4 linked regions of the Homo sapiens genome follow. The protein of the gene in region 4 purifies or fractionates together with the protein of the main gene of each other region. This does not show direct contact. Each region holds a gene or a part of one and is shown on either strand. Other genes may lie near its edges.

Region 1 (8,389 bases), on a different chromosome or scaffold from region 4:
AAGAGTCACAGGGCTTTTCAAGTTAACAGAGTCATCTGCTTTTTTAAAGAAGGGAGCACTGTGTCCAGGTCCAAGAAGTTTTTCATCATCACAGGTTTCTCATCAAAAAGACACTCCCAGGGGCTTCTCCAGATGCTGTTCTGACACCCTGAGCCTCACACTCACATAAGGCAGGTGGTTCTGGATTTATCAAAGCTGTAATGAGCTATACTGAACCAGCCCTGCCCTCAGACTGATAATATGAGACAGACAGCTGTCTGGGGGGCAAAAGAAAGTGTCACTTGGAATTGGGTATACGCTTATCTAAAATAGGCCCAGTGTAAGCCCCGGCTCTCCTCATCCCTGAGAGGCCAGCAGCCTGTGAAGATCTGCTAACTGAGGCGGCCGAGAACTTGCTGACCTGGCTCCCCCTCACTGTGCCCTACAGAAAGGGCACCGGGCCTCCTCCTGTTGCCCAGAGCTCCCCATCAGCTGCAGCTGCTTCTTGTGCTTTTCATGCTGTTCTGAGGGCCTACGGGGAGCTCCTTTAGCTGCTCTGGCAAACCAAGGGAAGAGAAGACAGATTTCCTTTTTATGTCACCTTCATATACGAGAGCAAAATGAAGACAACAAATTGGAAAAGGGATTTTGGAAAGTGATGCTGCCAAAAACCTTCTTTAGGAGAAAGGTCAAACCCCCCTGATTTTTCAACAGTTCTCTAAGGAACCCAGTTCTACTCAGTTCTCAAGATCCTGGGTCACACAGGCCAGAGCAGAGGGGAAAAAGGAAAAGGCAAAGAAGGAAAAGGGAGGGAGAAAAGAGAGAGGGGAGAGAGGCTGGAACTCACCATGCTTGCTGAGTGGTTCCAGGCTGCGACAGTGATGGTGTCTCCTACCCGATTCCGACGGGTAAGCACCTCTGACACAGTGAGGCTACTTTGGGTCCTTCTGGAGGAGGGCTCAGGGGCATCCCCTGAACTTGGTCCTACCCTTCGAGTGCCCTGCTCAAAAAGGCAGGACCTGGGCTGTTCGAGTTCTGAGAAGTCTGTGGAAGACCTCTGGGTGTAGGCATTGCTATTGGTAGATTCCACGTTTTTACCTATTCGAGTTGGGGGGTCTTCTAAAGATTTCAAGTCTCGCCTACTCTTCCAGGCATTCCGCACAGTAACATGTCTGGCATCTGAGAAGCCCACTTCTGAAGGGGCACTATGGCTTTTCCACCTGATTGTCTCCGCTGGAGGTGCATGGCTATTCCTCTCCACAGGATCCGATGGCTTGATTATAATGCTGCTCCGAGAGACCACTGTTTCTGGCCTGTCCTTCAGGGGCCCATCTGCCATTCTCTCCGCTTCTGCAAGCTGCAGGGTGATGTCATGTTTGTGAATGGAGAGCTCAAAAGGGGAGCTGACATGGTTGCTAACTGATGTGAGCTCTGCCAGCCCCACCTGGATATTGCTAGTGGATGTGTGCCTCTCCCTCAGGGCCTCACCCGGAGCAGCTCTGGGGCTGCTGCTGTCAGATGGATATATAGTAATGCTACTTGTCACTTTGTTTGGCCCTGGTTTGGAGACGGGTTTCTGTTTCTCCAACGTAGTCTCTGTTCCAGATCCTCCCATGATTTTTTTCACATCCTTATCAACAATAACAGGTTTGATGATGGCTCTAGACCGCAACGCCTCTCTGGGGCTAAAGGGCCTTTGGCTTTTTACCCCAGCACCATTGGTATCTGGGAGCTCCATGGTATTGGTGGAGGCTCTGACAGATTTCACAGATTCATTCTCCATTCCAGCATCTTTATCATTCTCAAATAGGGAGGTTCTAGGTGCCCCTCGGGTTTTAGCCTTTTCTCTAGAGTTAGGCTGTGGTTTGGGCTCTGGCTCTGGAGTGATGGTTGTATTTACCAACTTGGCAGTAACAAGAGATGCTATGTCCAAGTCATCATCTGAGTCTGGCTTCTCTCTGCCACTGGATTTGATGACTCGACACCTCAAGGCTTCATGCGGACTGCTGTCTTCCATCACAACTGCTGCAGGTTGATTAACCCCTTCTTTATGTGAGGTTGAAAATCCCTGAAGGATGTTCTCTTGGCTTCTACAGCTATAAGGATACTTCGATAGAACAGGAGCCTTGGAATTCGGGCAACTGTTATCAGCCTCAAGGCCATTGGCAGCCTTTTTGCCTTTAGAGAGCCCTTCTGAGGAGGATCTTCGAGATGAGGCCAGGGCTCCAATGGCCTTAGAACAGCCAGAGTTTGCAGCCTGAGTTACTTGACTTCCGTTGCCAAGCACGTGTCCCCTCTTGCCAAAGACAGTCTCAGAGGAGGTGTCAGAAGCCTTGTCAGCTCTACCCAATGGGTCACTGGGAACAGATCCATGGGTGGTGTCACTAAACGTTCGTGTTGTCTTCTCCACTTTTCCCTTCAGTCCGCTCTCGGTGCCTGGCTTGGAAGTCCCCTTCCACGCTTTACTGTGCTCCTGAGCAGCCGGGGGGTAGCGACTCAGCACTGAGGGCTGCTCCCTAGACTTCTTCCCTTCGCTCTGGGAGGAGCCGGGTACAAACCGGTCTTCAGTTTTCTTTGTCTCCTGAGTCCCACTGTCTGTACTCACCCCCATGTGAGAAGCTTTTGCTGCCCTCCTGTTGGTGAAACTGGGAGAAGAAACCTGCCTGTTGCTCAGAGAATAGTTTTCATTGTTGAGAGCAAACTCCCTGTTCCGGAGTCGTTCCCGCTTATGCTGAGGAGACAGTTCCCGCGCTGTGTGCTTGGACACAGAAGCTTCACTTCCGTGGCCTCTAAACTTAGTCCTCTCATGTCTGCCTTTGCTGGACAGGAAAGCATCTTCCCCTTCTACCTCTCCATTTTCTAACTCTTTCTGTTTCTTGATTTGTAGCTTTATCTCCTCCAGTTGGCTGGCTAATAATTTGTTTTTATTTTGTTCACTTAGGTAATTATCCTGAAGGTCGTTATTTTTGGACTTCATTTTCTTAAGCTCTTCTTCCAACGATTCAAAGTGTTTGATTTGTGTCTTAAGTTTCTCAATCTCTTGGTTAAGGTCTTTGACTTTGTTGTCTTCCTGATTGCGGTTCTTTTCATTTTCTGATTTGTTTCTTGTTTCATTCTCTACCTGCTTTAGGTAGTCCAGACCACCCTTCCTTCTTGATTCTTTGGACGGCAGTGTGGAAGAGATGCCATCCTCAATCCGTAGGTCATTTCTTTCCAGATTAGAAGCATTCCTTGTATAATCTCGGTTCATTTTTTTGTTCTGCTCTAGTTTTTGAGTGAGTTCTTTTATCAATTTCTCATTTTCTTTCTCCTTTTCATTCAAGTATTTTCTCTCACTTACAAAGCTCAGAGTTAATGATTTCAGCTTTTCTAACTCTGACGCTAAACTCTGCTCAGTTTTATCCAGGCGGTCCTCAGAAGATTCTAGTTCTTTCACTTTGACTCTGAGCATTTCCAGCTCAGAGGAGATTTTCTTGGTCAGATTTCTCTCCTCATTCAGGCTCAGACACAGCTGGGTACAGTCATTCTTACTCCTGCTGAAGGCCTCTTCTAGCTTCTCTAATTCAGCCATTCGTTTCTGAAGCCGCTCAATCTCAGATTTCAGCTCCCGGGTGAGGTTTTCTTCCTCTTCAAGTTTCTCCTTCATCAGACGACACAGATCCTCTGCTCTCTTAATTTCCTCGTCTTTGCCTTCAATTCTCAGCACCCGCTGGCGCAGCACTTCAATCTCCGCCAACATGCTGGAGTTGCTACCTTCTGCCTGAATCACCTTGTCCTGGAGATCCAGGAGTTCATCCTCTGCTTTCTGGAGGTTTTTTGTGGCTTCCTCCAACTCATCAAGGCGGCGGCTTAGACTCTGTAGCTTAAACCGCAAGTGGCGGCTGGAGGCCGTCTCCTTGTAGCTTGTAAATTCGGCCATGTCTACTGCCAGCCAATGTGGGCTCCTAGAGGCATCCAATTCCACTCAAGGGGATGAGAAATGGTTACCTTTCTCTTGGCAACCACAATCTTCTTTGACAGCTGGAGACCATCATCAATCTACAAAAGGAAAGTAGAAAGCATGTCAGTCAGCAAATGTAAAACCTGCACGTTAGCTCCCAGTTATAGAAAAGTGCTCCTATCTGTTCCTGGTGCCTGGATCATAGCAGGGGCTCAAACCTGTTGAATGAATGACTTGAATAAACCTGCAAGAAAACACTGGTTCTTTATGGCCGATATTGAGTTGATACCTCATTTCGCCCTAATAAAGAATGTCACCAGTGGCAGCATGGCAAAAAGACATATAAGAAGCCTCAATTTTCATGGCAGGGTATAATAACATCATTACCATCTGCAACCTGCATAATCTCAGGAGAGTCATTAACAATGGAAACTAAGTCTCAGTTTTACTTAGTGGTAAAATGGGCATAATGATGTCTACCGTATTTCTCCCCAGTGTTGTTCTGAGATAATATGTGGAAGATCTTGGTAACAAAGCAATAAACAATCCTAAGATTTTTTTTTTTAAAGATTATCTCTTATGAGCTATTGTGACTTAAAAGTGATACAAATTAACCCTCTGCCTTGCTATAAATGGTGAGCTTCACAATATACTAAAACAATCTCTCTACACCCATTTTCAACATCTCTTCTCCCAAAAGTATATTTGTAAGTGGAATTCAGGTGTGAGTTGGCCCGACCCAGCCAACAGGCAGCTTCTACAAAACATATCCTTTTGCACTGTAAAAGAAATGCCCCAGATGTTAAGGTTGGTATGAAGACTGGTTTGTTTCTTTGAAAGCCATTTCACTGGGGATATATACCAAACATATAATAATACCCCAAGGAAATAGAGAAAGGGGAAGGTTTAGTTTTTTTATGTAATTTTCTCATTTTTAAAACAGGAGAATGGATTGATAAATGTATTTTAAACAGCTTTCATGAACAATAAGTCCTACGAAATTAAAAGGCAAACAACAGACTTCCATTTCCACCACTACAGCAAACCAGATAACCTGGAAAACCTCTAATACTATAAAACAGCTAAAAATACTGAATAAAATGTAACAATCACTTAAAATGTATAGTTGATCACATAGAAAGTAAGTGACATTCCAGCTAAAACCAGAGGAAAAGAAAACTAAATGAAAAATAATAGTAAGTTTAAACTACCACTGAGCTGTCCTTCTTAGGGTCTTGCCGATCTCCAGAACCAAGGAGTTTGGGTTCTAACAATCATGCAGGTATAAGAGGCAAGAGTTTGGGCTCAATAGAGGTGGTAAGTTGAAAATGAGACTCCAGTCCCCAATCTAAAGCAAGGATTATTGAAGAACTACAGCTCCAGGATAACTAGTGAAAAAAGTCACCTCCCTGATATAGGGAGATAAGAGGACCCGGGCTCTATTAGGGGTTAAAGGAGGATTATCCCTAGAGAATTTATAATCTTAGACCTGCTCTCACTTGAATTCAGAGTTCAAATTTATACCATCTGAGTGGTCTAGAACCTATCTGTCCTGAGAAACTAACATAAAATGGCCATCAGCCTAGTAATATCCCTGGGAAACCTAGCTGAGCAAACAAAAGTACTCTGGAGGGAGCCACTCTCTACAGAGGTCACACAGGATTCCCACAGATTAAAGTCCAGCTGAACCTGAGCTTATAACTAAAAATTACAAAACACATAAAGATCCATCTTTTACTTGACTGGGCAGAGCAAGTCAAGTAAAAAAGAACCAAAGTTACTAAGATTATTGGCTAGAGACCATACAATAAGTACATTCCAATGTTTAAAGTCATAAAAGAAGGAATGAAAAAAAAAAAAAACAGGAGAAAGGAACAAGGTGCTATCAACAAAGATCAGAAGATCTGAAAGTTAACTAAATACAACAGCTAGAAACAGAGAAGAGAAATGGCATATTAGAGGCAAAGGAAGATATTAATAGTGGTCAAGAGAGATACGTAATTACAAAGAGCAGCACAGAGTTAAAAAGATGGAAAAGGTAAAAGAGAGGTTAACAGATGGGGAAATAATTAAAAAGGTCCAAAACAAGGAAGTTTTAACAGGCAGCCCAAAAGGATAGAATACAGAATAGGGAACAGGCAATATTTGAAGAGCTAGCAGGTAAGAATTTTCAAGAGTTGATTAAAGATATGGACCTCACATTCAGGAAGCAATGTCCCAACAGGAGAAAACTAAATCTGCACCTAGGATTTAGGATCGGAAGAATCCTAAATCCTCGTAAGGATACGGAAGAATGTATCACAAACAGAAAATCTTTAAAAAGAAAAAAGAAAAAAAGACCATTGTCTCAGTCCATTTGTGCTGCTGTAATAAAATACCTGAGGTAGTAATTTATAAGAACAGAAACTGGCCAGGTGCGGTGGCTCACGCCTGTAATCCCAACATTTTAGGAGGCTGAGGCAGGAGGATCACTTGAGGTCAGGAGTTCAAGACCAGCCTGAACAACATGATGAGACCCCATCTCTACTAAAAATACAAAAATTAGCCAGGTGTGGTGGTGCACACCTATAATCCCAGCTACTTGGGAGGCTGGGGCACGATAATTGCCTGAACCCACGGGACGGAGGCTGCAGTGAGCTGAGATCGCGCCACTGCACTCCAGCCTGGTCGACAGAGCAAGACACCATCTCCAAAAAGAACAGAAATTATTTCCTCACAGTTCTGGAGCCTGGGAATATAAGATCAAGGCACCAGCAGGTTTAGTGTCTGCTGAAGGCCCAGTCTCTGCTTCCAAGATGACACCTAGAATGCTGTTTCCTCACAGGGAAGAAGGAATGGAACAAAAAGGGTTGAACTTGCTCCCTCAGGCCCTTTTTTAAAGGTGCTGATCCCTAATACTATCTCCTTAAAGGTCCTACCTCTTAATGCTGTTGCACTGGGGGTTACGTTTCAACACGAATTTTGGAGGAAGCAAAAACATCCCAAACACAAAAACAATCTATAATAACAACTGAACCACTTCTCAGCAGAAACTTTTAAGTAGGTGGCAAGTAGAATGGACTACAGGGGATAAGGTTGGGAGCAGGAAGACCAAATAGGAGGCTATTGCAGTAATCCAGGCAAAACATAGTTATGGCCTAGACCAGGATGGTGGCAGTACATGCGTTCCAAGAGCACGTGACCAAGACAGTTGAGAAATGGTCAGAATTCTGGCCGTATGAAGGCACGACCAAAAGATCTGCTCTTAGACTACATGTGAAGCATGAGGCAAAGAAAGGAATTAAGAAGCCGAGTGCAATGACTCATATCTATAATCCCAGCACTTTGAGAAGCTGAGGTGGAGTTCAACACCAGCCTGGGCACAACACAGTAAGATCCCGTCTCTATAAAAAAAGGTAAAATAAAATAAAATTAGAAGGTACAGTGGCATACACCTGTAGTCCCAGCTACTTGGTAGGCTGAGGCAAGAAGACAGCTTGAGCCCAGGAGTTTAAGGTTCCAGTGAGCTATGACTGTGCCACTGTACTCCAGCCAGGGTGACAGAGCAAGACCCTATCTCTAAATAAATAAGCAGATAGACAGATAGATAGATAGGAATTAAGGTAGACTCTAAGGTGGCTGGGCTGAATTTGTAGAGGGACAGCATTACCATCAATTCAAATGGAGATGACCGCAGATGGAGCAGTCTGAGAAGGAAGATGAGGAGTCTCATTTGGGACATGTGTATGAGATGTATATTAGATGTATAAGGGCCCACTTGAAATTCCTGGTAATGATTTAAAGTGAAACCAATCCACAAAGTTCTTTTTCTCCAGTCTTGTTCAGCTGGCTGAACAGACAAAAGAATAGAGAAACCAGAATTGGACTGAACCAGATCGAAGCACTGCAGAACAAAGCAAAAGAAGGACAGGAGAGCAGAGGATGTGTGTGAGGGACTTTAAATTCACTCAGTACAGAAGGAGGTGAAGAATAGTGAAAATATAATAGAAACTAATGAAGTGAAGGTCCCAAGGGGACTTGAAGGCTTGTTGGAGTAAGGGTACCAGGTACCAGAGGAAACTAAGCCTGAAATATAGAAGAAAGAAATCAGAGAGGGACTTCAAGGAATTGAAATCATGGAGGGACTGTAGTTATTGATAATGTCAAAAACGAAGGTATAATCATAGGAATCCTGTGGGGGAGTAGGGAGAAGTAGAGAACAAGATCATTAGAAGAGAGAAATAATTGAGAGGTAAAGGTGTTGCAAGGGTCACCAGCATGTAAGCGCCATAAATTAACAGGAATAATGCTGGAAAGAGTGACGTTAAGACAGAATCTGAAGTTGTTGAGAAGTTAGGGGCAGTGACTCAGGGCGTCGACAGACGGCAGCAACGATAGAGTATTAGGTGATGTCGTCCAATAAGATCACATTTAAAAATCAAGGACAAGAGTGAAGAAACAGTCTGAGACATAAGAGAAAAACAGCCACCA
Region 2 (8,389 bases), on a different chromosome or scaffold from region 4:
TCTTACAACAATTCTTTGGTCCAGCATTTACACTGGCCTCCATTACTTTTGCCACCCATCCCACCTGGGAGCTACTCTGACCTTTCCCTGTTCCAGTGCCTTCTTCGCAGAAAGCAATCAGGCCCAGCACCATCACCAGAAGGCAGATGGTATTTCTGAGCCATCTAATCACCCCTGGGTCAGATGGCACCAATGGACAGTGATCAGTGATTTTATAAACTAAGGCTTAAGGCTAGGTCACCACTCAATTACATTTTGTGACTTTACAACTGAATGGTATTTAATTACAAATTATAATTTCCTAAAGAGTAATTCCAAATTAACTGTTAATCACTTGATTCTGTTTTTTATATATACCATATACACTGTCCTTCCATTTTTGATTCTATGAATCATAAATAAAACACAAAAGTTCATCCTAAGGGTACACTTTACTAGGCAAACACTTACTTGATGAAAGTTATATGTCAGGACCATCTCATAAAGTTGACGGTTATTTGGCAAAACATCTCTTGATCCTAAAGGTTTTGTTTTTGCACTCACTGGGCTGTAATGAGGAAACTACATAACTGGTTTGATTCAAGAGTTCATTGAATGAGACAAATAAAACCATATGCAACAAAATCTGTAACATATTGCAAAAAGTGCAGATGAACCTTCCTGAGAGCTATCCTTTTCAGTATACTCTACAATATTTTAATCACTAACTTACATAATTATTTGATTGAATCATATCAATACATACAGTTTAGATTTTGCAATAAATATGACAAAGGCAATCTTTTCATGGCAAAAACATTTTCAAATGTGAACAAACAGCTCTCAATACAACCAAATCCTAACACTAGGGTGACAACTAAAAGTGTTGCAAGACAGGTTCTGATTTGTACCCCTTGTGCAAACTGTTGACAGTACTGTGTTGTGTGCAGCACAGACCTCCCCAGACCCCTGCTGCTCACCAGATGGCAGGGGCCACACTCAGCCCTCCTCCTGGCCGAGGGAATGTTATTTCATATTTTTAGTAGTCCTCTGAAGGAAGTTGCTAATGTACAGATTTTATAAAGGAGAAAACTGACACTGAAGAGTAAGTTTTAAATATAGTTTAAAATGTCAGTGAAACATAATCTACTCTAAATTTAGCTCCAATTTTTTAGATTTAGGAAGAAAACATCAGGATGATATAAGTTGGATATATCTTCAAAAGCTGGATGTTTTAATTTTTATTGATAATTCTAGGAAGCAGTATATCTTTAGACATCACCGTGTCACTGACTATTGTCCCTAATTGGTTATTTTAATACACTTAAGACTAGGCTTCATGCCGATGAGTTAAGGTCAGATTAAACAAAAGAAACCAGGTATCTTTATAACACAGTGAGTATGTGAACACAGGTCAAGGTGCCCTGCTTTTGTAAGGGGAGCTGCTGAGGCACAAACAGCAGGCTACAGTACTTAAGTTTCTACCATTTAATAAACAGTTTCTAATGGTATTGCAGTTTCTAAAAATGACTGCATTAGGATTCACAAAATAATATCAGAGAGAATGTTAACTTGCTATTTTACAGCAAGAAATAAAAAGGTTAATGTCCACTGATCCTAACTAGTCATGACTGGGATCGGCTATCCACCATCCTTGACTTTGCTGGTCAGGTGGGACAGTGAAGCTAGAAGCTGATACTGGGGCTGCCTTGCAGAGATCTGCTGGCAAGGATAAAATTCTCACCTCTAGCATGCAGGTGGATTAAAAAAAAAAAAGGCCCTTTTTTAAGAGTGTAAGAGATCCCCCCAATCTATATTCAATATCTGTAGTTCCTAAAACATTGAATGATACCGCAGTGTTTGGACCCAGTTCTTCAAAGTTATGCAGGGAGCCAGATCTTCGTATTTCAAGGAGGACTGAACATCAAAGCGGTTGATTCCTTCCGATGCATGCTACAAAGGATTTCTCAAATTACTTTCTCAAACTTTACTAAAAATAAGCAATATTTTGTACCTAAAATAAATGTGTCCAATATAAAGTTTATAAGTACCCACACACAAAGCCTACTGCTATCTTCAGAACCACAGGTAATTTCCCCTCATTAAAGTTTAAATCTAACCAATGAAGTTACTCTCCAGTAACACAAGTAACTGACATTAAAAATCATGAAAATGTTGTGGAACTTACAATGTTTAACTGAGGAGCAGTACACACTATCCCATGGAAAGAAATGGTATAATCAATGTTGACATCACTGAGACTTGCCCACCAACGAGCAATGCAAAATTCAATTGCTTTTCCACCCTGCAAATAAAAGTAAATAAAATATATCTCTTTTCTTATTTTTCTCAAATTACAGAATATAAATACTAGCTGTTTCAGAGCAATTCTGTTTTCAAACTTTTCCTGTTTGTAGCAAGAAAACTCAAAAATTTTAACAGCTATGCTAAGTAAGAGTTAGACAAATCATTTGCAGAGATATGGTGTATTTAAATATACATAGTTATTTACTCATAACCCTATGCTTCTTGTCATAAAAGATCCTAGGCAGCTTCTGAAAGCACATATAATAAAGCAAATGTGATTTTATTATTTCGAAGTGAAATAAAAAATTAGGACCAAAAGAAAAATAATCAAGTATAACGACACAATAAAGATACTTCAACTTTGTAAGGCATACTCAATAGGCACAATTGAGTTTGGGCTCACAGCTACCTGGCAACCAAAACAAAATGACATTATGGTCATTTACATCTTTCTCCCTATTAAAAAATAAAGATAAGGAAAAGGAAAAAAAAACACCTGCTCTTAGCACTGAGTTTTAAAGTAAGTTTTCTAGTAATCAGTGATTTAAAAGTTTAAAAAGATGAAGCAACACTGATCCATGGAAGAACACAAATGAAAGTAACCAGAAACCAAGAGATACTGGGAAAATCCCAGAACCAACTGAAAACACAAAGGAGCGCATTGAAGGAAGAACATCAGTACTTTCACCTTCTATGGAAGAAAGACTAGTCATCATTTCCAACACCACAGATAAGAATGCAGTCTGCCATCATCTGAGATAACTTAGACATGAAGCAGTAGCAGTTTTCCTATAATGCAAATTAGCCTCATAGCTTAACAACACAGCATTAGTAAAATAAGTTAAGTGACAAGCAAACAGGTCTTAAAGAAATTAATCTATAGTACAACAAAGAATAATCTAAATCAGGGTCCTAACTACAAGGCACGAGAATCTACCAGACTAGTATGTTTCTTTGACTATGCTATTCAAGAATTACAGCCATAATTACCTCCAACTTGATTTCAAGTACCCTGATTAGATTTTCTATTTTTCTACTTCATTTTTTTGGCATTAAAAAAATATATAATCCCAACATGCTAAATACAAACTATAAAATCAAATGCAAATACTTAGTCTTAGCCCATACCAAAAAGGCAAATAAATTGTGTTAGGATTATAAACTATAATTAAACTTACTAGGACAGGAAAAGCTTCAGTCAGTGTTCCTTTCTCTGGAAGAGAACAAAACTTATAGAATTCATGGCTTCGATATGCTCTTTGCTTCACAAGCTGGACTGCATGTAGAACAAACTTTGCTGACACCTCAGAAGAACACGAACACACTGTCACTTCTAAAATAAGAAAGAAAGAAGCAAAGCTTTAAACTTATAAGACCTAAAATTGACATAAAGTGGCTTTAATAATGCCCACTTAGGGATAATTCCCATGTAGGGACATAATAGGGATCAAAAATAAAATGTACACTCAAATCTGCATATTTCCATAAAAACAAAGAATCAACAAAATATTAATAAAGGTAGAAGACTAGAAGATTTTCTATGGGAACGAAAGAAACTGGTATTAAAATGAACCACCACCATGAGGCTGCAAACACCTGGAAACAGCAAGCTGTCCATAGATGCATACACAATTACATTAATCGGGTACCTTTTAAAATCCCTCCTTGTTTTAGCTGAAAACCAGTCAATTCCAGATAAAGTAAGGAAGGTTATATTTTTGGAAACCTCTATTTGTTATCATGCCTCAATTCCTCATTGATAACTTTTCCTAATCTCTCTTCTTGGTCTACTTGTGTACTGTGTGCGTCTACAAAGCCTGGCACGACTACTTATGCTTAACTTTACTCTGAGCCAGCGCTGGAGGTAAGCCAAGATCACCGCAATGCCAGATTGGCAGCTTTTCTAAAGAACACCCAAGCTAATTCAAGGGAACTGAAGCAAGGCGCAATGCCGTGGCTCATAAAACCAGGTGTGCAGAGAGCTCTCAGAACCTAGTCAGTTGCTAAGAATACAAAATCTAGTGTTATGACAATATTTCTAATTATTTGAAATAAAACTAAGACTGTTAAATTCTCTTAACTACTTGCATTCTAGATCATTTGATAATTTTTATTTAAAAAAACAAATTATTTTCAATACCAACCTAAACCAATCATAAATCAGTGCCATTTATCACTAAACAAGTACCCAATTCAGTATTAATTAACCATAGATTTGTATTCTTTAATTTACCAGTGCACATTTTACCAGAGCCTGGAGCTCTACAAGTCCCAGGGGCCCTATGAGAATGGGACCCCAGGAATGCTGAACACAGCAACTCTGACTCCACCCTCTAGAAGTACTGTCAAGTGTGAGCGTAATCCCAACGAAGACAAGCTATGTACCAAGTACTATAAAATCCCTAATCCTTACAACAGACTAACGACTATATTTACAGTTGAAACAGAAGTCCAGAAAATTTAGAAACCTGCCCCCAGGTAACCATTAGCGTATGGCAGAGTGTGGATCCAAACCCAGACTTCTCAATTTCCAAAGCCCGTGGCCTTGCCGCTACTCTGTGCTGCCTCCCTCTAATCCAGTTCTCTTAACTGCAATATCTTGGACTAGATGCTCTCAAGGCCTCTGGAAGCAGGGTCCTTGTCTAAGTAGCTCACCACCTTAGCCCACTGAAAAGGGCCTGGCACAGATGGTACAGAAAAATATGCTTAATGAATGAGTGTAGTACAACCCGATTATCCTCAGAAGCCTCTCACTGCTGCAATAGCTCCATTATAAACCAGTGTGCAAATTAACAGGCTATATTGGGTGCTGTTCAATTCACTGCTTTAGCTCTCAGCTTTTGCTATTATTTTGCCTTTACCTAATTACAAAAAACAAGAAAAGTCTGGTATTTCCTGTGATACCAGGTGACAAACAGATGGACAGCATACAGATAGATGACCAGAAAATGGTATGGGGAACCAAATACAACCAGTTATTCCCAAACCAAGTCATACATGTGTGATTTCAATATTTCATTTTCAATAAAGTCTCAGATGTAAATATATCTGTACTTTCATACAAGTACAAAAAACACACTCCTAAGTAAAATACAAGCCATTTTTACTAATGACACCTATCTACCTTATAGGGTTCTGACGGGACTAGACAAGATAATCTCTGTAAAGTGCTTAGCAGAGGGGCCAAATCCAAGAAGTATCAACAATGCTGGCTACTAATTTAAATTGGGTGACACTTTCTTGACTGCCCGTATTTGCTTCCTTCTATCAATGGGAGTGAGCTCTGACAACTGACATACCCTTCTATACTGACTGCTAAATTGTAAATTTAGGACACACAACTTGTGAAGGAAAATATGGTACACCCACAGCTCTTGTAAAAAAGAATGACATGAGCACTCTCACAGGACTATAACATGTTAATTCAAGAGCTTTGTGTTAGGCAATCATTTACTCTCAAAATTTCAGAGACACTGAAGTGAAAATCTTCTATAAACAGAGCTTCAAAGATTAAAGCTCTATTTCTAAAATTCTGAGAGTTTAACAGTTTGAGGTTTAAGCAACAGCTGCATTGTTTAAACTGATTTGTAGTATTTTAAAAATTAGGCCGGGCACAGTTGCTCATGCCTGTAATCCCAGCACTTTGGGAGGACGAGGCGAGTGTATCACGAGGTCAAGAGATCGAGACCATCCTAGCCAACATGGTGAAACCTCGTGTCTACTAAAAATACAAAAAATAGCCTGGCGTGGTAGCACACGCCTGCTAGTCCAAGCTACTCGGGAGGCTGAGGAAGGAGAATCGTTTGAACTGGGGAGGTGGAGGTTGCAGTGAGCCGAGATCATGCCACTGCACTCCAGCCTGGCGACAGAGTGAGACTCTGTCTCAAAAAAAAAAAAAAAAAAAAAAAAAAAATTATTACCAGGTAAGGCATTATTCTAAACTAAGCTCAAACCTTAAATATTAAAAACATCTTAAGATGGCTTAATTTCCTGTATGGGCCAATGCAAAATTGTACTAGATCTTAAAAACGTTTTGAACTTTACAGAAAGTCTAAGGTACCCAAATACATATATTAGTACCAGGGAAATACATGCTACAGATAAACGAACCTCATACAGCTATAGTCATTAGAACGTAAACAGAGATAAGCGGTCACACAGATTTTAATTTTACCTACCAGCCCATGTTGCACCCTCAGGAACCTCAATAAAATGCCTTCGAATTTGACCAGGTTTAAAGTGTACATCTGTAAAGGCTAGATCATAATGTGATGATTCATTTACTCTGAAAATTAATAAAAGTAATTAAATGTATATATTTATTATAAGACCACAGATACTCTAGATTTCATTGGATAAACGCAAAATAACAATTCATTGGAAATAAACACAGGGACTTAGAAGCTGGTTACAAAACAGTAGGTACGATATTGTTCAATTTTTGCAGTAGGTTAGCAGAGATAACCTCTGAATAGCAGAGTATAGATGATTCTACTTTTTGCCTATTTTATGATTTGTAAGATACATTCACACACACTATTAAAAAAGCATTCTCTTTTTTGTTAAAGGCATTCTACAACATTCACAGAATTTTCCAATTACCAGATTCCAAACTACAGTGAGTCCTAGATATTAAAATCAATGATAAAGTTTTATGTCACTGGTATTATAGCTATGAGACTTGTGTTAAATTAAGCTCCTCCTGTAGCTTCAAAACACTCCCATGATGTAAAACAGTAAAGAAAGGCAAACTACTTTCAAAGCACTTTTGTAAGAAATCAATGAAATAAAGTTCAAATGCATAACTACCCACCACGGAAACAAATTTTATGCTAGAGACAAATTCTTGTCAGTAGGACAAACGGTTAAATGAGTGCCTACTACATGAGGCCCTGTTATTAGGAGCTAGAAACGTAACAAAGAAGAAAATATGATTCTTTAACCTAGACAATCTAGCATGGAGAGAATCATCATCAGAGACATTTAACATAAGATGCTCCAGATAGACAAGAAGAGTTACGGAGCCTGGGAAGCTTCCTGAAGGAGATGGCGTGGCAGCTGACTCCTGAAGGTCTTACACATTACCTGGTCTAAATTACTACTGGACTTCGAGGGAATATACGGCTGAGAATTTAACTGTTGCACAATTTTTCCACATGTATACCACTTTTTAAATTTATTCTCCTCAATTTCATCCTGTGTTTCTCATGGGCTGAGATCTATTGCATACTTAATATTTACCAGAGTAACAGAACTGTTAGTTTAGAATTTCCACTTGGTTTCCAGTACTCTCACAATCCCAATCTCACCTTCATCCACTAGATAATTTATTTTATACATCCTGTATAACAGTAGTCTCTGTGCCTTCGGTGGGCTCACAGTGAAAGAGTGTAAGTTAAATAAAAAATTACAATATATTGGCTAAAGTCTGTCCAGGGGCACGTAAAATGTGCCACGAAGCAGAAAGAAGGGACTCCCTTCACCCAGGGATGACCAGGAATGCACCTGGTCATTAACTGAAGAGACAGGAAATTGAAACCAAGTTATCAGCTGTGCACATGCACAAATCCTGAGAATCCTCAAGTGCCAAAATCAGTGAGTTGGCCAAAATGTGTAATTTGGTGTACGGAATGACAGGAAACACTGGCTAGGGCTATAATTGTGAGGGAGCATTGTTTGCTATTTTAAGGAGCTTGAACTTGACCTTTGGAGGTGCCACTGATATACTTTAAGCAGGAAGTAATATAATCTGCTGATTTTTCCTTGGTTCCAGAGGAATAAGATGGGAAGTTAAGAGTTTCTTAACTTCTGCTTCTACAGTAGATAACTAGAAAAGTGGAAGCATTAAGAGAAGAGAGTAAATCCCAAAAACGACAGAGACAAAAAGGGCAGGAATGGAGGGGAGTGAAGTAATATTGTCAAATACTACAGTGGGATCGGGTCAGACGAAGCCTGAGTTATCCTCTGAACTGGGCAATGCAGAGCTCAGAGTGACTGTGGTGGAAATAGTTTTGATGCAGAGGTAGGGCAGATGCCAGGTGCCATCAGTTACTCTCAGAGCACACAAGAGTCAGTATGGCTGACTACATGACACCTAAAAATG
Region 3 (7,215 bases), on a different chromosome or scaffold from region 4:
TCATCTACTGTTGCACCCCAGTGTACTTTACACTCTAACTAACAAATGACTTACAGTTTCTGAATGCAGCCTGCTACACCATCCCATTTTATTCTTTACCCAGAATGCTGTCATTCTCTTTTATTTCCGCCTTCTCTGTTTCTGGCAAAGTCTTACTCGAATCACAAAACTCTTCGCAAGTGTTTCCAACTATTTGGAGTCTTCTCTGACCGACTTCAGCAGACTATTTTTTCTTTTCACACAAACAGTTCAGCCTTATTTGTATATATACAGCCGTGCATCGCTTAAGGACAGGGATATGTTACAAGAAATGCATTGTAGGTGATTTTGTCATTGTGCAAACGTCATAGAGTGTACTTACACAAGCCTAAATGGTATAGCGTACTACACACTTAGGCTATAAACCTGTACAGCATATTACTATACCAAATACTGTAGGCAATTGTAACACAATGACAAGTATTTGTGTATCTAAGCATATCTAAACATAGAAAAAGTACAGTAAAAATGCTGTATAAAAAGTGAAAAATGGTACCTGCATAGGGCAGTTACCATGAATGGAGCTTTCAGGACTGGAGTTGCTCTGGTCACCTAGTGAGTGAATAGGGAGTGAATATGAAGGCCTAGGATGTTATTATACACCACTGTAAATTTCATAAACACTGTACACTTAGACTACACTAAATTTATTTTTAAAAATTTTTTCAATAATAAATTAACCTTAGCTTACTATAACTTTATCAACTTTTTACCTTTTTAACTATTTTGTAATACTACTTAGCTTAAAAGACAAGTCATAAATTTTACAGCTATACAAAAATATTTTCTTTCTTTATATCTTTATTCTATGAACTTTTTATTTTGACTTCTTAAACTTCTTTGCCAAAAACTAAAACACATACAAGGCCTAGTCATGTCAGGATCATCAATATGACTGTTCTCCATATCCTGTCTGACTAAAAGGTCTTCAGGGGCAATAACAGGCATGAATCTGCTATTTTCTATTGTAACAATGCCTTCTTCTGGAATATCTCCTGAAGGACCTCCCTGAGGCTGTTTAACGTTAACTTTTTTTTCAAAAAGTAAGTAGGAGTACCCTCTAAAATAACAACAGAGGCCAGGCACAGTGGCTTACACCTGTAATCCCAACACTTTAGGAGGCTGAGGCAGGTGCATCACCTGAGGTCAGGAGTTCGAGACCAGCCTGGCCAACATGGAGAAACCCCATCACTACTAAAAATACAAAAATTAGCTGGGCATGGTGGTGCATGCCTGTAATCCCAGCTACTCAGGAGGCTGAGGCAGGAGGATGGCTTGAACCCTGGAGGTAGAGATTGCAGTGAGCCAAGATTGCACCACTGCACCCTAGCCTGGGTGACAGAGCAAGACTCTGTTGAAAAAAATATAAAATAAAATGAAATAACAACAGAGGCTGGACGCTGTGGCTCACGCCTGTAATCCCAGCACTTTGGGAGGCTGAGGCAGATGGATCACTTGAGGTCAGGAGTTCAAGACCAGCCTGGCCAACATGGTGAAACCCGCTCTCTACCAAAAGTAAAAAAATTAGCCAGGGGTGGTGGCGCATGCCTGTAGTCTCAGCTACTCAGGAGACTGAGACAGGAGAATCTCTTGAACCCAGAAGGCAGAGGTTTCAGTGAGCCGAGATCACACTACTACTCTCCAGACTGGGCAACAGAATGAGACTTCTGGTCAAATAAAATAAAATAACAGAAAGTACAGTATAGTAAATACTAGGCGATAGAGGTTTCTCAGCTCCATTATAATCTAATGGGACCACCGTCCTATGCAGTTCATCACTGATTGAAACATCATTATGTGGCACATGGCTGTCTCACATTCTGTAACAATTTGTTTGCATTTCTGTCTCCCTCACAAAAATTTTAGCTGCTTCAGGGAAGGAACTACTTGTTATTCATCTCTGTATCTCCAGTACCTAACACATTTTCTAGCAAATAGTAGATGCATGATGATGAAAATAAATCATCATAATAACAGCAGATAATATTTATCTGATACTATGTGCCAGATATTATCGAACACACTTTACATTTATTAATTAATTTAATCATCACAAAATCCAATCAATCAGTCAGACACAAAGTAGTTAAATAGCTTCCCCAAAGTTGGCCAACAAGTAAGAAACAAGGATGGGATTTTAGCACAGTCTGTACCCAGAGCCTATATTCTTAGTTACTATGTAATATAGCATCACATGTATCAATAAATGGTTACACACATAAATTAATGAATTTTATAGTTTCAGTTTCTTCTGGTCCTAAGCTGCTTTTACCCTTTTCCTTTTTTTTTTGAGACAGGGTTTCACTCTGTTGCCCAGATTGGAGTGCCCAGGCATGGTCACAGCTTACTGCAGCCTCTGCCCCCAGGCTCAAGTGATACACCTCAGCCTCCAAAGTAGCTGGCACAGTAGGCCACTACTGGCTAATTTCTCTATTTTTTTGCAAAGGATGGTGTTTTGCCCTGTTGCCCAGGCTGGTCTTGAACTGCTGGGCTCAAGCAAAACGCCCTCTTCGGCCTCCCAAAGTGCTGGGATTACAGGCATGAATCGACATCCCTGGCCTACCCTTTTCTAAAGTAGCATTTATTTTAGGAAGTTATGTACATTGTTGTATTTGTTTGAGTTGTCATAGGTACTAATACAATTTTGATGTGGTATTAAAATAATTCCCACTGGTAATGTTTTCCTACTTAACAAAGTATAGACAGTAAGAAATCAAATATATAGCAAAGAGAAATTTACTGGGTAAAATGTGCCTAGTATTCATACCCACTAATTCTAGAGTTGTTGCTTCTAATGAAAAGGGAGGAAGATGATGGTCCCATGTTAGTATTTTAGGCAGATGGAGCATCAGTCAAATCCTGGAACTGCTGTACCCAGCTTTAAAGTTTCACTGTATTGACTACATAATGCTTCCTTGTAGATATAATCTAAAATTGTTCAGCAGAGCAAATGGGTTTATATTTGACAACTAGGGAGCAATGCCAGCATTATTTTCTCTTTTGTAGTATGCCAAATATATTTAAAAATATAAGCCATAATTTTAATACCTAAAGTAACTGTTAGACTGTGCATTTTCTTATTTTAGTAATAGTAATTTCTGTTTGTGGTGAATATGAGTTTTATTTTTAAGTGTCCTAAATGTTTAATAAGAGTCAAGCCTGAGGGAGAAATCAGTCTGGTAGTTTGTAATTATTAAGATACAGCAGTTATAGGCCAGGCACGGGCTCGCATCTATAATCCCAGCACTTTGGGAGGCCAGAGCGGGTGGATCACAGGGTCAGGAGATCAAGACCATCCTGGCCAACATGGTGAAATCCCGTCTCTACTGAAAATACAAAAATTAGCTGGGCGTGGTGGCACACACCTCTACTCGGGAGGCTGAGGCAAGAGGATGGCTTGAACCTGGGAGACAGAGGTTGCAGTGAGCCGAGATCACACCATTGCACTTCAGCCTGGTGACAAGAGCGAGACTCCATCTCAAAAAAAAAAAAAAAAAAAAAAAAAGATGTAGCAGTTATATTGTTACTCCTTTTCCTCTTGGTTTCCCCCCCAAAAATACTTTTCTTGCTTAATTTACTTTCTTGGTAAGAGTGAATAGAGGCTAAGTGATAATGCCACTACACTGATTAAATGACTTACTGGCACAAAACTATTGAGGCTTAACTAGTTGACTGTTTTAATAACATCATTAAAATTTCATTTTGGTTTATTAGAGCACATCCATGCAAAGTTGGAATCTAACCATTCTCATGTCTCCTTATAATGCCTAGGGGATCTTTGAAACAGTATTTTTGCCAACTCATACTTTCTATTTTCATTCTGTAAAGATAAAACATGTAAGTGAAAACGTTTAACAAACATTAAGAACCTTCTTCGACCAGGCACTCTCCTTCGCTACAAAATTTCCACATTACCTATTTTTTTATTAGCCATTTTTGAACTCTCTTCCATTTCTAAGTTTCTCCCTGCAGCTTTCCTGAACATGAAGCATTTCCTTTTCTTTTCATTTCTAGCTTTCCTTTCTCTGTACCTCATGTACACTTGGAAGCTTCAGGGACTTAGCACTGGTCATGCCAGCCTCTACAGATCACATCTCTGTCTATAATTGGGTCTCCATGGTAATGAGAAGCAGAAAGTGCTGAAGTAGCGCACTATGTAAGGACTGGCAAGAGAAAATACTGTCGCGGCCTCTACAGGCATAGCATTGAATCCCCATGGTGCCCAAGAAGCCCGAGAGAAGCACGCTGTGGTGTAGAGCAGGAGACTGAGGACACGGACTTGGCAGATTTATTAGCAGCAATATTCTAAGATGAACCAAATTTAAGAGTTTGTAAGTGCTCTTTTCAATTGGAAAAGACCTTTGAAATTTTTTTTTCTTTTCTTTTAGGAGGCCAGATGCTCCAGTGCCTGATGGCGAAAGTGAGAAAACTGTAGAAGAAAGTTCAGATAGCGAATCTTCTTTTAGTGATTAAGCTTAATTTTGATAAGAATTACATATGCATGCATAGGGGTACATTTACATTCTGTAAGAGATTGAGCCTGAACTCTCTTAGTCATAAAAACATCAAATGGCCACATGTCCACTACCAAGCTTCTTCTATGTTAAAAAAATAATAATAAAGCAGTTTTAACCTGCCAGTATGTCTTGTTGCTAAAATAAAGGGCCTCAAAATGAAAAATAGGATAACCTAAATAAAGTACAATTAGTGCTACAAATACTAAGATAGAATATTTTAGAGATGCAATGAGCAATTACAGTCAGGCACGGTGGCTCACGCCTGTAATCCCAGCACTTTGGGAGGCCGAGGCGAGTGGATAACCTGAGGTCAGGAGTTCAAGACCAGCCTGGCCAACATGGTGAAACCTCCATCTCTACTAAAAATACAAAAAGTAGCTGGGCGTGGTGACAAAAATTAGCTGGGCGTAGTGGCAGGTGCCTGTAATCCCAGCTACTCGGGAAGCTGAGGCAGGAGAATCACTTGAACCCAGAAGGTAAAGGTTTCAGTGAGCTGAGATTGCGTCATTGCACTCCAGCCATGGCGACAAGAGTGAAACTCTGTCTTAAAAATAAAAAGAGATGCAATGAGCAATTTTAAATGAAGTCAGTGTGAGTTTAGTGATCAATAGTAGACCCAATGCAAAAAAAAAAAAAAAACAGTGAATTTGGCTAAGTGAATTATTCAATTTTTGTGAATATTTTAGCATGAAAAGTATATGGATTCATATCATGAGTTGTTAAAGACATTTCTGGTAGAAAGTAATACTGGGTTGAAATTTCTTTGACAACTTAAAACTTACATATCACATATGTTATGGGTATGGAACTTTTTGGTAGTATTTTTTAGCATATGCAGCCTTTCACCACTTGGCCATTAGTTCATGTGTTTTTTAAGTCAGATATTCTTATGCAGTCATGCATTGATTAACAACAGGGATATGTTCTGAGAAATGCGTCATTAGGCGGTTTTATTGTACAAACATTGTGGATTTCATAACAAGTGTACTTACACAAACCTATTGCTTCTAGGCTACAAACCTGCACAGCATGTCACTGTACTGAATACTGTAGGCAGTTGTAACACAGTGGTATTTGTGTATCTAAATGTAGAAAAGGTGCAGTCAAATATGGTTTTATAATCTTAGGGGATGTTGACCAAAACATTATGCAGCACTTGACTATATTTATTAGCAGATGGAAATTGAATTGAAGGTCGTTTCAGTGTGGTTCATAATGAGTAACCATCGTTGCCATCAACTCCTGTATTACCTAAACAAAAAAAAATGTGTGCAGGATTAAAATGTTCTCACCTCACCTTGCAAATAAATAATTATTATTCATAGTTATTTACACACAGTCTAGAAAATTCCTAAAGTACTTATGTGAAAAATATATAAATGCATTTAACTAATTGTGCCCATTTTAGTTTAGTTCACCTGCAAGTAGAGCCTGAGAAAAGGACTTGGGTGTATACAGGTCATTCACAAGGTGATCCCAGAAAACAGAAGTAAAAAAACAGGGAGAGGAAAAGGGAGAAAACCACTTAAAAGTTTATTATCGGCCAGGTGAGGTAGCTCATACCTGTAATCCCAGCACTTCGGGATGCTGAGGTAGGTGGATCACTTGAGGTCAGGAGTTTGAGACCAGCCTGGCCAACATGGTGAAACCCTGTGTCTACTAAAAATACAAAATTTAGCCGGGCGTGGTGGCATGCACCTGTACTCCCAGCTACTGGGAGGCTGAGGCAGGAGACTCACTTGAACCCAGGAGGTGGAGATTGCAGTGAGCCCAGATGGAACCACTGCACTCCAGCCTGGGTGATAGAGTGAGACTCTCTCAAAAATAATAAAAAATTTAAGAAGTATGTTATCAAGATTGCCAGTTGGGGTTTGAGTGCTCCAAGACCCTCTGAGAAGCTTTCAGAATGCCTCCCAAAATTTTCCACCTAATAAAACTGGGAACATTAATTAAGCAATTTCCATCCCCCGTTAGTTGAGTTGCCTCCAGGGGCATTAATTATCCCTGCACTTCTGGGCTGTGCTTCTGTGTGGAAAAGCAGCACCCCAGTGTTGAAGAAAGACTTGGAACAGGAAGCAGAAAGATACATGGCTTCGGCTTGCAGTGGGATTTCACAAGCAGAAAGGACAAGTCCAAGCTTACTCACCTAGAACTATCCATGTAGCTGTGACTGATACCGGAAGTGGACGAGGGAATGTGCAAAAGAGATATTTGCTGCAGTCTACCCAAATGCAGTCAATTCAGAACTGATTGAGTCCCATGTTAAGTCTACTTTGTCTTTTGTCTGTGGGATAACACAAGGTGATGGCCAGCCACAGTCTTTCTAAAATCTACACATGAAGATTAGTGAGACAAGCCACAATTACTGTCACTATGACTGAACGCAAGGCCAAAACTGGTACTTATCATCTTCTTCCACCACCCATTTTACATTTCTCCTGCTCTATATCAGAAATTCCGCTGGTCTAGGCTGGTTGTCAAGCATAGTGACCCAGACCTTCATCCTTTAAGTTTTCTAGGGCTTTGATTGCTTTGCCCTGTTTAGGCTATGATTATCACAGTCATCTGTTTGCTGTTTCTTACCAGGCACTGAAGCACCACGACATGCCCCAGTGAACCACCTGCGTTCTAGACACATTCTTCCTGTTTCATTTTGTAA
Region 4 (8,389 bases):
AACTGAAAATATTAAGCTAGGTACTTAGCATTGTGCTATTGCTATTGGCTCCTAAAGCAACATATATACACTACACAGCACCTTTTGTACATAATTTTAATTCTTATTTGTGAGTCTTGCTGTTCAATAATGATAATAATGATAAATAGGCAAATTTATTAACGTACATATGTGCTAGACATATAAGCCTAAATTAATTTCTATTTAATCCCATGAAATCAATTATAAATCTTTCCTAGTCTAGAACAAACAGCATGCTTTCCTCATTATTTCTTTCTTTCATCATATTTAAAAATTCTTTCCATTCATACATTAAAAAAAATTAGTGTTAAATACATGTTCCTTATCAAGCTAAATATAGCCTTTCTGACTTACCTAAAATATCACTTTCATAATTATAGAATTTTAAAACCAAATTTTCAGGAAATAAAACCGAATTTTCAGATAATTATCAAATCAAAATTGTAATTTAGAATTTGTAGCCCCCATTTATAAATGAGGAAACTGAGGCACAAGAGTTTTTTTCTATGATCACACACCTGGAAAGTAGAAGAATGGGGATTTAAACCCATACAAGATATGAAACATTTGGGATATAACACTGTAAATTTAAATACAATTCCCTTATGAATAAAATTCACAAAAAATTAGTTGAAAAACAGGATATATTTAACATAGCTGCTCAAAGATTCTAATTACTATGAGAGAAAAAGAAAAAGTATAATTCTAGAAGAAATATAATGTTAGAAAAATATAGTACTCTTAATATTCTGAAAACAATATCAGAAAAAAGAACACTGAAAAATACAAATTTAGAGAAATAATGGATTTTTTCCTTTAAAAATTTTCATTGACATTAAAATATTCTCTCTACAAAGAACTTAAACAAATTTACAAGAAAAAAACAAACCCATCAAGAAGTGGGCAAAGGAAATGAACAGACACTTCTCAAAAGAAGATATTTATGCAGGCAACAAACATATGAAAAAAAGCTCATTATTACTGGTCATTAGAGGAATGCAAATCAAAATGACAATAGAATACCATCTCATGCCAGTTAGAATGGTGATCATTAAAAAGTCAGGAAACAACAGGTGCTGGAGAGGACGTGGAGAAATAGGAACACTTTTACACTGTTGGTGGGAGTGTAAATTAGCTCAACCATTGTGGAAGACAGAGTGGCAATTCTTCAGGGATCTAGAACTAGAAATACCATTTGATCCAGCAATCCCATTACTGGGTATATACCCAAAGGATTATAAATCATTCTCCTATAAAGACACATGCACATGTATGTTTATTGCAGTACTATTCACAATAGCAAAGACTTGGAACCAACCCAAATGTCCATCAATGATAAACTGGATAAAGAAAATGTGGCACATATACACCATGGAATACTATGCAGCCATAAAAAAGGATGAGATCATGTCCTTTTCAGGGACATGGATGAAGCTGGAAACTATCATTCTCAGCAAACTAACACAGGAACAGAAAACCAAACACTGCATGTTCTCACTCATAAGTGGGAGTTAAACAATGAGAACACATGGACACAGGGAGGGGAACATCACACACCAGGGCCTGTTGTGGGGTTGAGGGCTAGGGGAGGGATAGCATTAGGAGAAATACCTAACATAGATGATGGGTTGATGGGTGCAGCAAACCACCATGGCATGTGATACCTATATAACAAACCTGCACGTTCTGCACATGTATCCTAGAACTTAAAGTATAATTAAAAAAAAAAAAAAGAAAAAGAAAAAAAAGAAAGAAAAAATATTCTCATAAGAAAAAAACTCACGTCAAAATCTTTATGATTTTAATTAAACACATTTGTAACAACCAGTGAGGGTATTTGGCAAGTACGTTTCTAACAGTGAGGGTATTTATTACAAGTGTTGCTACCTGTAACGATTCTTATAAACTGTAAAAAATCATAATGTTACAATTTTATTATTTTGTTATCCATAAATAATGATTAACATGAATTTTTAAAAAGGTATGTTAATTCAGAATATAATTTTTAAAAATACATGTCACTCACTTGATTGGCTAGCTGCAATTGTTCTTGAAGGTTTCTGACTGTTTCATCATCTGCATATATGTCAGTTCCTACCTCTGTGCCCAGGGGAAAGGCCTCCAATTTTTTTTCAACAGCATCTTTTAATTCACTGTGCAACCTTTGAAACAAATAGTTAACATGATAGCCTCAAGTCATTTTCGTAACAGTAATTACTGTTTCGAGGTCAATTAAACATTTGGGTCAACAATAACTCTTTAAACAAAATCATTTTTAAGTAGACTTCAAATAAAAAATTAGAAGTGTTTAATTACCATTAAATACTGTGCTATAAGAATCAAAAGATTATATAACAATTTCAATGCATTAAATCGATCACAATTAACTGAAGCATGATTCAGTTTGTCCTAGAGAGGTTTCAATTTTTCAAAAATTTTCAAAAGAGTAAAATTCAGATATTATCTCTTATTAAATGATAAAATAAGCCATTCAGAAAAATTCTAAAATATCTATGTATATCTAGTCAATTAAATGAAAATTATATATTAAATCCTGTAGAATTATTTGCTATTTTCTTCAGCGTGTTTCACCAAACTCACTGGACTTCTTACTAATTCCAGTTAACAAGCAAAGAGAAGAAAATGGTCGCTGGCTATAAAACCAAGACATCAGAAGCTTTATTTTTCAGCACATCCTTATATAAGATCAACAATAATACTGAAAGGCTTAAAATTGACTTTAATCTTAACATTAAGGTAAATTACAGATATTTCATGCCTTAACTACAAAAAAAAGCAAGGAAGGTACAACTTAAAAGAATGATTGTTTTAATTTAAAATAATACATACTTAAGAGAAAAAAAGTACATTTTCAGAAAACACTCTTATTTCATATAATCATAAGCAGAAAATATTTATAGTAAATACATTACAAAGTGAAAATAACAAAATAAACTACATCCATCTACCTAAAACATTTAGAGGTGAATGATTTACTAATATTACAAATCTCCTTTGAAACAAGAAAACTTAAATCTTGATGTCAAAACATATTTATTGAAAACAAAATTCATCAAATACAATAAAACTGAGAAGGTAAACACTTTAGAAACAAAAAAATTAATTACTCTGAAGAAAGGACAGAGCTTGAAAATTATTCTCTAATTAAAAAACTTACAAGTATTGGTTAAGACAGTTTTTATTTTTAAATATCTAACAGTGTTTTTAAAAACTTTTATTTTTCCTATATGAAATGTTTACCTAATAGAGAAAATGATCAGTATAGAAATATAACAAGTTTTAGAAAAGATACCCCAAGTCCTATGAAAAAAACCATTATTAATTCTGTAATATATTTTCTAGCAGAATTTTTACTTTCCATTAAAAATAGACCAATGACATACTGTATTGCTAATACTATAATCTGTCTTTTTAACCGTAGTATTCAGACATATGCATTCTCTCACATTCTAAAAAGTTTTCTGCAAATATTTTAAAGATGACATAATATTCCATCATTTTCATCATATGGTTATCTGCATCATAACTTATCAATTATCCTAATCCTTTAAATTGATTGTAAAATGAAATGAAAAAATAGTAAAATTAATATTTAGTACACTGTACTTTAAAATATCAGAAACACTGAGAATTAAAGTGTCTTATTTCTTTGTTACGCAGCCAAAAGACACATGAAAAAATGCTCATCATCACTGGCCATCAGAGAAATGCAAATCAAAACCACAATGAGATATCATCTCACACCAGTTAGAATGGCAATCATTAAAAAGCCAGGAAACAACAGGTGCTGGAGAGGATGTGGAGAAATAGGAACACCTTTACACTGTTGGTGGGACTGTAAACTAGTTCAACTATTGTGGAAGTCAGTGTGGCAATTCCTCAGGGATCTAGAACTAGAAATACCATTTGACCCAGCCATTGCATTACTGGGTATATACCCAAAGGACTATAAATCATGCTGCTATAAAGACACATGCACACGTATGTTTATTGCGGCATTATTCACAATAGCAAAGACTTGGAACCAACCCAAATGTCCAACAATGATAGACTGGATTAAGAAAATGTGGCACATATACACCATGGAATACTATGCAGCCATAAAAAATGATGAGTTCATGTCCTTTGTAGGGACATGGATGAAATTGGAAATCATCACTCTCAGTAAACTATCGCAAGGACAAAAAACCAAACACCGCATATTCTCACTCACAGATGGGAACTGAACAATGAGAACACATGGACACAGGAAGGGGAACATCACACTCTGGGGACTGTTGTGGGGTGGGGGGAGGGGGGAGGGATAGCATTAGGAGATATACCTAATGCTAAATGACAAGTTAATGGGTGCAGCACACCAGCATGGCACAGGTATACATATGTAACTAACCTGCACATTGTGCACATGTACCCTAAAACTTAAAGTATAATAAAAAAAATTCATTTAATAAAAAAATGTAGTTATAACAAGCAGTATAATTATAACTGACAGTAAGACAGTTTTTAGGGTCTTAAAATTTTTAGCCAGGTTCGGTGGCTCACACCTGTAATCCCAGCATTTTGGTAGGCCGAAGTGGGTGGATCACGAGGTCAGGAGTTCGAGACCAGCCTGGCCAATGTGGTGAAACCCCGTCTCTACTAAAAATACAAAAATTAGCCGGGCATGGTGGCGTGTGCCTGTAGTCCCAGCTACTCAGGAGGCTGAGGCAGAAGAATTGCTTGAACCCAGGAGGCGGAGGTTGCAGTGAGTCAAGATCAAGCCACTGTACTCCAGCCTGGGCGACAGAGCAAGACTCTGTCTCAAAAAAAAAAAAAAAAAATTTAAAGGTCACAGAAATATCGTAATTGTCCCCCATTGATTATTAAGATAATTTTGTACAGTTTCAGCTTGCAAGGTCATTTTTTTAATCTTACACTTCATACAAAGGAAGGACTACCTATACATAGTTTAATTTTGTTTGCTTCAGTATCTGGCATACTTGGGGAATAGATGTCCAATCTTGCGTTTCTAATGCTTGCTGTCTCTCACCGAGTGTGCTCTGTTCCCGAGGTGTTATATGATTTTGGGTTTAGATTGCTGTTCTTTTTCTAACCTCTTCAACAAATTCTAAGACATCATTATTTTTAGACTTTCTTTTCTAATACATACTCTTAAGATTACAGCTTTCCCTCTAAGAATCGCCTTAGTGGCAACGCCGACGTTATGTTATTTTCTTTATTAATCAGTTGAAAATATTTTCTAACTTCCATTGTGAGTTCTTTGACCTGTGAGTAACATTTAGAGGCATACTGCTTAACTTAGAAAAAGCTGAGGATTTTCTAGTTACCTTTTTATTATTGATTTCTAGCATAATTTTCACTGTCATCAAAGAACATAATCTGAATAATTTCAATCCTTTTATAATCTGAGAGTTGCTTTTTTTTTGAGTTGGTCAATTTCAGAAAACTATCACGTGTACTTAGAGAATGCATATTTTGAAGGTCTTCGGTATTAGTATTCTATATATGTCCCTTAAGAGATTTCTTAATTGCATTATTCAAATATTGCATCTTAACTTACTGTTTTTTTTTCTGGTTGCTATTTTATTTACTGAGAGCAACCTGCTCATATTTCCTATTATAATGGTGCATTTGTCTGTTCTGCCATTCAGTGCTATCACATTTTTGTATTCTGAGTCTTTGTTATTGAGTGCTTACACATTCAGAACTGTCATATCTTTTGGGCAAATATAATTTCGTATCATTATGGAAACCGCCTTTTAATCTGTAATCATCTGTTTCACATTAAATTCTACTATGTCTGATATTACCAGCATGTTTTCAGTTAGCACTTCCATGGTATACATATTTTCTATCCTTTTATTTTCACCCATTCTGTACTCTTGTATTTTACGAATCTCCTTGGTTAAAAGCATGTAATTGTGGGTTCATTTAGTTAATCTCTGGTAAATCACTCTTAAAATTATAGCATGTAGTACAGCAAAATTTAATGCAATTACTAAGGCATCTGGGTTTATATCTACTACCTTAGTATTTCCTATATGTCTTGACTTTAAAAAAACAAAACAAAACACCTCTCTTTTTGTTCCTATTCTTTCTTATTAACTGGAATTAATTACATTTTATTATTCCACTTTCCTGCTCCATGAGCTTGGAAGTGATAGAATCTTTTAGTTTACTGTAGTGCTCAGCCCAGACATCGTAACATGCCTCTGAGAATTGCCACCCTCTACTATAAATTAGTATCCTATTTCTAATGGATAATGTAAGCACCTGAGACTATCTCAACTCCATTTACACTCTTCCTAAATGTACGGTATTGCTGGCTCATATTTCAAGTCTCCTCAAACATTTTAAAGCCATTATTATTATTTTTAAAAGTTTATACTCGTTAGATTTTCTCCCATATTTACCCCTTCCATAGTTCCAAACTTTATTCTAGGATGATTTTTCCTTCTTTTTTGGGATTTGGATTAATTCTGTCAACGGTAATTTTCTCAGTTTTCATCTGAAAATGTACTTATTTAACCCTCCTTCTTGAAGAACATTTCGCTGAGCACACAATTCTTAGTTGACAGTTTTGGTTTCTTTTCTTTTCAGCACTTTGAAGATATTCCATGTCTCTCGATTTCTATCACATCTGTTGAAAAGTCAGTTATCTTACTGCTATTCCTTTGAGGATAATCTCTGTTGTGAGAATTTTTCTTTGATTTTGATTTTGTAGATGTTTTTGCATTATCATGCTTGTGATGCATGGTGTTTCTTTAATCCACAGATCTTTTGCTACTTTTGAAATTTTTCAGCTATTGTCTCTTCAAATATTATTTCTGTCTTTCCTGTTCTCTCTGGGATTCAAATTACACGAATTTTAGTTCTTTTCACTACCACATTTTGTTCCATATTTTCTTTTTAAATTTTTTTGAATTTATTTTTTACTTAACTTTTAAGTTCAGGGGTACATGTACAGGTTTGTTATATAGGTAAGCTTGTGTCACTGAGGTTTGTTGTACAGATTATTTTCAACCCAAGTATTAAGCCTAGTACTCATTATTCTTTTTCCTGATCCTCTCCCTCCTCCCAGCCTCCACCCATTGATAGGCCCCAGTGTGTGTAGTTTCTCTCTACATGTCCATGTGTTCTCATCATTTAGCTCCCACTTATAAGTGAGAACATGAAGTATTTGCTTTTCTGTTTCTCTGTTAGTTTGCTAAGGATAATCACCTCCAGCTCCATCTATGTTCCTGCAAAGGACGTGATCTTGTTCTTTTTTATGGATGCATAGTATTCCATTGTATATATGTACCATATTTTCTTTATCCAGTCCACTGTTGATGGGCATCTAGGTTGATCTATGTCTTTGTCATTGTGAATAACTGTTCCGATGAACATGTGAGTGCATGTGTCTTTATGGTAGAATGATTTCTATTACTTCGTTATATATCCAGTGATGGGATTGCTGGGTTAAATGGCACTTCTGTTTTGAGTTCTTTGAGATCCAAGCCGGGCGCGGTGGCTCACGCCTATAATCCCAGCACTTTGGGAGGCCAAGGCAGGCAGATCATGAGGCAGATAGAGACCATCCTGGCTAACATGGTGAAATCCCATCTCTACTAAATAAATAAAAAAAAATTAGCCAGGCATGGTGGTGGGCACCTGTAGTCCCAGCTACTTGGGAGGCTGAGGCAGGAGAATGGTGTGAACCCAGGAGGCGGAGCTTGCAGTGAGCTGAGATCGCGCCACTGCACTCCAGCCTGGGCGACAGAGTGAGACTCTGTCTCAAAAAGAAAAAAAAAAAAAAAAGAATCCAAACTGCTTTCCACTAGTGGCTGAACTAGTTTCTGTTTCTACCAGCAGTGTAAAAGCATTCCCTTTTCTCTGCAACCATAACAGCATCTGTTATTTTTTGATGTTTTAACAGCCATTCTGACTGGCGTGAGATGGTATCTCATTGTGGTTTTGATTTGCATTTCTCTAATTAAGTTGAGCTTTTTTTCATATGGTTATTGGCCACATGTATGTCTTCTTTTGAAAGGTGTTCAAGTGCTTTGCCCATTTTTCAATAAGGTTTGATTTTTATTGTAAATTTAAGTTCCTTATAGATGCTGGATATTTGACCTTTGTCAGATGCAGTTTGCAAAAATGTTCCCCCACTTTGTATGTTGTCTGTGCACTCTGTTGATAGTTTCTTTTGCTGTGCAGGAGCTCTTTAGTTTAATTAGATCCCATTTGTCAATGTTTGCTTTTATTGCAATTGCTTTTGGTATCTTCTTAATAAAATCTTTGCCCACTCCTATGTCCAGAATGGTATTGCCTAAGTTGTCTTCCAGGGTTTTTATACTTTGGGGTT

Evidence for each region.
Region 1: the proteins of SCLT1 (region 4) and LUZP1 purify together in Homo sapiens (affinity purification with mass spectrometry; one large-scale study listed by BioGRID and IntAct). This does not show direct contact.
Region 2: the proteins of SCLT1 (region 4) and TPP2 purify together in Homo sapiens (affinity purification with mass spectrometry; one large-scale study listed by BioGRID and IntAct). This does not show direct contact.
Region 3: the proteins of SCLT1 (region 4) and WASHC3 purify together in Homo sapiens (affinity purification with mass spectrometry; one large-scale study listed by BioGRID and IntAct). This does not show direct contact.

The regions. Positions count from the first base shown.
Region 1 is NC_000001.11:23,090,364-23,098,752, forward strand, and holds part of LUZP1 (leucine zipper protein 1), read right to left. Parts: intron 4,018-8,389; 5' UTR 3,899-4,017; coding exon 827-3,898; intron 1-826.
Region 2 is NC_000013.11:102,638,452-102,646,840, reverse strand, and holds part of TPP2 (tripeptidyl-peptidase 2), read right to left. Parts: intron 6,572-8,389; coding exon 6,465-6,571; intron 3,620-6,464; coding exon 3,465-3,619; intron 2,285-3,464; coding exon 2,168-2,284; intron 1,933-2,167; coding exon 1,832-1,932; intron 548-1,831; coding exon 451-547; intron 1-450. UniProt on the Homo sapiens protein: Cytosolic tripeptidyl-peptidase that releases N-terminal tripeptides from polypeptides and is a component of the proteolytic cascade acting downstream of the 26S proteasome in the ubiquitin-proteasome pathway.
Region 3 is NC_000012.12:102,010,405-102,017,619, reverse strand, and holds the end of WASHC3 (WASH complex subunit 3), read left to right. Parts: intron 1-4,427; coding exon 4,428-4,512; 3' UTR 4,513-4,780; downstream 4,781-7,215. UniProt on the Homo sapiens protein: Acts as a component of the WASH core complex that functions as a nucleation-promoting factor (NPF) at the surface of endosomes, where it recruits and activates the Arp2/3 complex to induce actin polymerization, playing a key role in the fission of tubules that serve as transport intermediates during endosome sorting.
Region 4 is NC_000004.12:129,001,694-129,010,082, forward strand, and holds part of SCLT1 (sodium channel and clathrin linker 1), read right to left. Parts: intron 2,184-8,389; coding exon 2,048-2,183; intron 1-2,047. UniProt on the Homo sapiens protein: Adapter protein that links SCN10A to clathrin. Regulates SCN10A channel activity, possibly by promoting channel internalization.